Regions from separate parts of the Homo sapiens genome. Here region 1 is linked to region 2. The links come from fine-mapping of genetic effects on gene expression. A gene starts in region 2. The other region holds a variant in brackets. All regions are shown on one strand. Distances are between the middles of the regions. Region 1 has its middle 53 kb from the start of MIR7702. Region 2 holds the start of ECPAS (Ecm29 proteasome adaptor and scaffold).

The links. PIP is the estimated chance that this variant, and not a neighbour inherited with it, causes the effect. A credible set is the group of variants that fine-mapping cannot tell apart.
Region 1: its variant is the best candidate, but not a certain one, in a credible set for the expression of ECPAS in fibroblasts (GTEx, PIP 0.75).

Annotation. Positions count from the first base shown.
Region 1 is chr9:111,216,640-111,219,552 of GRCh38, forward strand. No RefSeq gene overlaps it. Among named protein-coding and RNA genes, the nearest start is that of MIR7702, 53 kb to the right of the region's middle. The variant T/C (reference allele first, on the strand shown) is at 1,317.
Region 2 is chr9:111,482,783-111,485,695 of GRCh38, forward strand. ECPAS (Ecm29 proteasome adaptor and scaffold) reads right to left here and starts at 1,601. Exons shown (of 50, transcript NM_001364929.1): 1 at 1,334-1,601. RefSeq lists silencers at 231-650, 921-1,040, 1,161-1,700.

The DNA of each region.
Region 1 (2,913 bases), 270 kb before region 2:
GATAGGACCATACACTGGATCTGGATAAATAAGCACAACCAAAACATATGTCTGTGACCTTACAAGATAAACTGCTGGAGCCTCAATTCTGCGTCTTCCCATCTCCTCTTCCCCAGCTATTTTGACTTCCAGCAAAATTCCTGGATGACTCCAGAAGTCTCTCTGCTGTGACCAAAGACCATCTTATAGGCCATCTCATCCATCGCTGCTGTTTCTCCTTGCCCCTGTTAGTTACCCCCTCTGCTCTGCAGTCCTGGTGTCAGTAGAAGCAGAAAGCAGTGAAGCATTTCCAACCATCCCAGAAATGGGGTGCATTATTCTTTCTCAGAAATTCAGAGATCTCAGAAGCATCCACATGTAACTGCTCATTAACAGCTTTTTCTTATTTCTATTTCCTATAACACAGCAAATCAGAAACGTCTAAAGAAAAGGGTAAATTTTATGTACTATTTCAAAACTAAAAAATAACCAATTATGTAATAAGTGAAAAAAAAAATTGAAGCAGAAATGGAAAAATGATTTGAGCTCACAGGATAAATCTTGATATATGTTGCAGTGGTTGACTTGCTAATTCTTCTTCTTGCTCAATGTCACTGGATGAAGAATTGTAACACGGCAAACTTTCAAAGATGAAATTCAAATACCTGGTAATTTGAGGTTTCGTTGGGGTTTTTTACTGTAATTAATTTTAGGAAAAATTCATCTTTGGCATGCAATGATCTGGGAATAATTTCAGTGAAAAGTAAGGATGCCTTTTATTGGTATTGGGTTTTAAAGATTACAACAAGCTATAATTTACATTATCTTATTTGATTCTCAAAATGACTGAAGTGGAAAGGAAAGTTATACTATGTTCTCCATTTTACAGGTGAGGAAACTGAGGCTCAAAAATCTGACCAGGTGTGGTGGCACTCACCTATAATACCAGCACTTTGGGAGGCCGAGGCATGAAGATTGCTTGAGCCTTGGAGTTCAAGACCAGCCTGGGCAATACAGCAAGACCCCATGACTACAATTTTTTTTTTAATTAGCTAGGTATAGTGGCACCTTCCTGTGGTCCCAGCTACTCACAAGGCTGAGGTGGGAAGATTGCTTGAGACCAGGAGGTTGAAGCCACTGTGAGCCATGAACACGCCATTGCACTCCAGGCTGGGCGACAGACTGAGAACTTGTCCAAAAATAAAAATTAAAAAAATCATAAGGCTCCTAACCAAGATCTTACAAAAAGTAAGTAATGATATTTGGTCTTGATCTCAGTGCAGTGTATTTTCCATTATACCCTAATGACTTTTTATACCCCCAGCTTTCTGGAAAAG[T/C]TAAGGAGCTCCTATTTTAAACATTGAAAATGAAACTGGCTTTTCCAGATACCTAAAGGTTATTTGTGTGGCAGTTAGGTTTTTTGCTATTCACATACCAATATCTGGCTACACAACTGCAGTATCGTTGGTGTGGCTTCACTGGCATGCTCACAGAATAGTCCTGCCCTCTTGCACTGTGGACACATCTTCCCTATCTTACCACCTCATTGATAATGCCCAACCTTATAAACATAAGCAGGAAACATTCCCTTCTTGTTTGAGTTGATCATTAGGCAAAGGACCAACTTGAAGAGGCCATTGCAGAAGTGAAATTTCCATACTATACAGTTGTGAGTTGTTTAAATATTCAGGGGGAAAATGGTCAGGGGTGGAAACTGGTCAAGGAAGAGAAAGACACACAACTGTGAATAACTGAACAGATCTGCATTCATAAATCCAAATTTGTCAATGGGAAATTATCGAAATGGTCTTTTGTGTGTGTGTGTGTGTGTGTGTGTGTGTGTGTGTGTGATGGAGTCTCGCTCTGTCGCCCAGGCTGGAGTGCAGTGGCGCAATCTCTGCTCACTGCAAGCTCCGCCTCTCAGGTTCATGCCATTCTCCTGCCTCAGCCACCCAAGTAGCTGGGACTACAGGTGCCCGCCACCATGCCCAGCTAATTTTTTTTTTTTTGTATTTTTAGTAGAGACGGGGTTTCACCATGTTAGCCAGGATGGTCTTGATCTCCTGACCTCGTGATCCACCAGCCTCAGCCTCCCAAAGTGCTGGGATTACAGGTGTGAGCCACTGAGCCCGGCCTGAAATGGTCTTAAGATGTTTGGTCAGGTTAGTGTGTTCACAAACTTTATTCCGTCTCATTAAAATGACATACTTGTGAAAATTTTGGAAAATATAGAAAAATAGCAATCACATGCACAAATAACCAGTTTCACGGTAACTACTTAAGAGTTTGTTGTGTTCCCTTCAGTATTTTTCTTATGCAACATACTTCTTTTATGTAGTTGACAGTTCTGCAGTGCTTCTTATTGACTGATCCTGGGAAAGTTACTTAACCTCTGAGAACCCAAGAGCATCTGCTTATACTTCTAGTGTCAATACACATTCATTGGCAGCTTTTTATTATTTCTATTTCCTAGGATATGGCAAATCAGAAATTTCAACAGCCTAAAGGAAAAATTTTCACACTCTTTCAAAATTAAATAATTCACAAATAAAGAAAAAAAGATACAGAAATAAAAAACAAAGCATCACTTTCCTTATCTAAAAACTACGGGAAATAATAGGACCAACCATATGGGATGGTTGTAAGGATTCATGAGAAAATGCCTATCAATTGCTTAACCCAGGGTCTGTCAGAGAATAAGCACTCAAATAGCTATTATGTTATTTTATATATATATATATATATATATACATATATATATATGTGTATATATATATATACATATATATATGTGTGTGTATATATATATACACATATATATATGTGTGTATATATATATATGATTTTATACTAATTGGTCAGTTAACAAGTTATTCATTTTATTTTGTATCACACTTTATTCAAAAGAGGATTTCAAAGTGAAATGAATGTAGA
Region 2 (2,913 bases):
CGGAACTACACTTCCCACAAAGCATTGAGGCGAACCCCGGCGGCGGGCGGGGCGGCCTGGGATTCAGGGTGACCACCGCTCTCCCCAGACAGGGACCGCCGTCCCCGGGAAGGCTGCACCGCGTACGATCGAGGGGGCACTAACTCTCCTTTCTGAAAGCGCTGTCACCCCGTGGTTTCTCCTGCGGTTCGACCGGCGACCCTCTCCGCCCTCCCTGCTCCATCTGAGGGTCACCGCCTATTCGTGACCTTTCGGCTGATTACTAGAGTGTCACAAAAAGGCACCTTCTCCCCCTTCCCGAAAGCTCCATTTCTATAACTCAACCAGCCGTCGGGGACCCGGGGCCAGGCGGGGTCAGACGGGACGGGCGGACACTGCCCGTCACCCCGGGGCTCCGGCCCTCCCGCCAGCCGAGGCTCAGTGGGCAGGGGGCTGGGCTCCCCCGACCCCGGGCCAGGGCGGATCGCGGGCAGAGGTGGCTCCGCCCGGGGCTCCGGTTTCAATTTCGCAACGTGACGGTGCAAACCTGAGGCCTACAAACGCCAGCGGCGACGGTCCGCGCCCCGCCCGTCCGCCAGGCCCGGGCTCCCCAGCTCCCCGTACGCCGCGGCCGCCGCCCGCCCACCGGGCCTGGCGCCCCAGCCCTCATGCGGCCGCCGGCCCCCGGCACCGCGCGGCGCCCGTTCCGGCTCGCGGCCGCAGGTTCGGCCGCGGCACTTACTCAGCTCATCCTGGGAGGCGGAGGCGGCGGCCGCAGCCATGTTGCGCCGGGGAGGGAACGAGGGAGGGGCTGGGGGGGCAGGGCGCGGCCGGGGGGCTCGCGGCTCGCGGTGCGGCAGGGGCCGCGAGCCGCCTCCGTTCACTCGGCGCGGACCGCGCTGTGCCCCGAGGCCCGCCCGCCGCCGCCGCCTGCGTCCTCCGCGTCGCGAGCGTCGCCCTTCGCTGCCCCCGCGAGCTCGCGACTCGGGCGCTCCCGCAGCCTCGCGCCTCTGCGGAGCCGCTGCCGCTGCCGCCGCCGCCGTCTGTGCGGCCGAATCCCCGTGCGCCAGGCCCGCGCGGCGGCTCTGCGACTCCGCGCCGCGCTCGCCCAACTCACGCCGGTTTTATATTTAGAAAGAGCTGAGCCATCCTCCCAGCGGCCCCCCCGCCGGGCCCCTCGCGCGCCCGCCCGCCCTCGCTCGCTCGCGGCTCGTCCTGCCCACCTGTCGCCGCCCGCCCCGCGTGCGCTCCCCGCGCGGACTCGACACGCGGCGGCCTGTGCGGGCGGCCCGGCCTAACCGCGCCGCCGCGCGCGCAGGGCCAGTCCCCCGCGGCCCGGGGGCGGGCCTCTGACCTGAGTCGGAGCCGGTCTCCATGCCGCGGACGCTGCGCTCGGCGCCGCGAGGTGAGGGCTGTAGAGCGAGGCGTTCGGCGGGCCGGGCCCCGGGGAGCCGCGCGCCGCAGTCCGTGAGGGGCTGGGCCGAGCGGGCCCGGGCTGCCCTAGCGGCCGGGGGAAATCCTCGAGGCGGGGCCGGAGCGCCCTTTTCCGAGGTCTGCGGCTGTCACGTTGGCTGGGCCCGACCTGGGGAAACACGCCTGTCCAAAGGAAGAGACGTGGACTCAGAAAAGTAGAGCCGGGCTCGGAGTCGGCGGGAGGAAGCCCCGCCCTGCGCCTCCCGCCGAACTTCTCGGCCCCGGCGCTGACTCAGTCCCGGACGAGCCCCTGCGCCGCAGCGGCCCCCGACAGCCCAGTTCTGGTGTGGAGGTGGCTGGTGCTCCCAAAACGGCTAGCGGGAGCAGGGGGTCCACTCAGCCCTGCAAAAGTTAGATAAGGCAAGATTCCTAAAGTTCACATGGAAGTATCTATGCCTATGTGAGCTCTGAGATTTTGTTCAGATACCCTATGTTCTTTTCGGTAACTAGAGTGATTTATTTTCGATATGCTGATTTTAACTTTCTGCCTTCGCTTTGTCCGTGAGGTCATGTACACTTGCAAAATGAAATTCAAATTCAGGGGTTGCATAATTGCTGTACTTTAAGTGATGGTACTGTCATAACAAATTAGATACAAGATCAGATACTTTTTTTATATAAGAAGAAATCAAGTCTTAAATAGATTGAAATTGCATTTATTCCTTAAAGCAGAAATCTATAAAGCCCTAAGTAATGTCTTAAAAATGGAATATATGTCATTCCTGTTGTAACATAGGCCAAGTACAAGGTACAACACTGAAGACATTTTTATTTCCTTTATTGTTTTTGTTATAGAAATTATACATGATCTTGGGCCGGGCGCGGTGGCTCACGCCTGTAATCCCAGCTCTTTCGGAGGCTTAGGCGGGTGGATCACGAGGTCAGGAGTTCGAGACCAGCCTGGCCAACATGGTGAAACCCTGTCTCTAATTAAAAAATACAAAAATTAGCTGGGCGTGGAGGCGCGCGCCTGTAATCCCAACTACTCGGGAGGCTGAGGTAGGAGAATCGCTTGAACCCGGGAGGCGGAGCTTGCAGTGAGCCGAGATCGCACCACTGCACTCCAGCCTGGGGGACAGAGCGAGACTCCGTCTCAAAAAGAAAAAAAAAAGAAAAATTATACATAATTTTTGTAAAAAAAAAATGCAAATGATTTGGAGTATCATAAAATTAAAAGTGAAAGTCCTTCCTCCTAGCCCCACCATCCCACTCTGCAGAGAAATTATGACTAACAGTTACAGTTAAGTGTGCAGAAGACCTTTTCTCTGGACATATATATACAGCCCCATGTATGGCTTTGATGGGGACAGGTTTCTACAATAAAGTTCTGGATCAATTATTCCTTCACACACATTGTTCCATGTTAATTCAAAACACTGCACTACCATCACCCTTTTTTGTTTGTAACTTCATACTACACTAAGTTAACCAACCCCTTTTTTCATGTATGCTCCTCTTTTA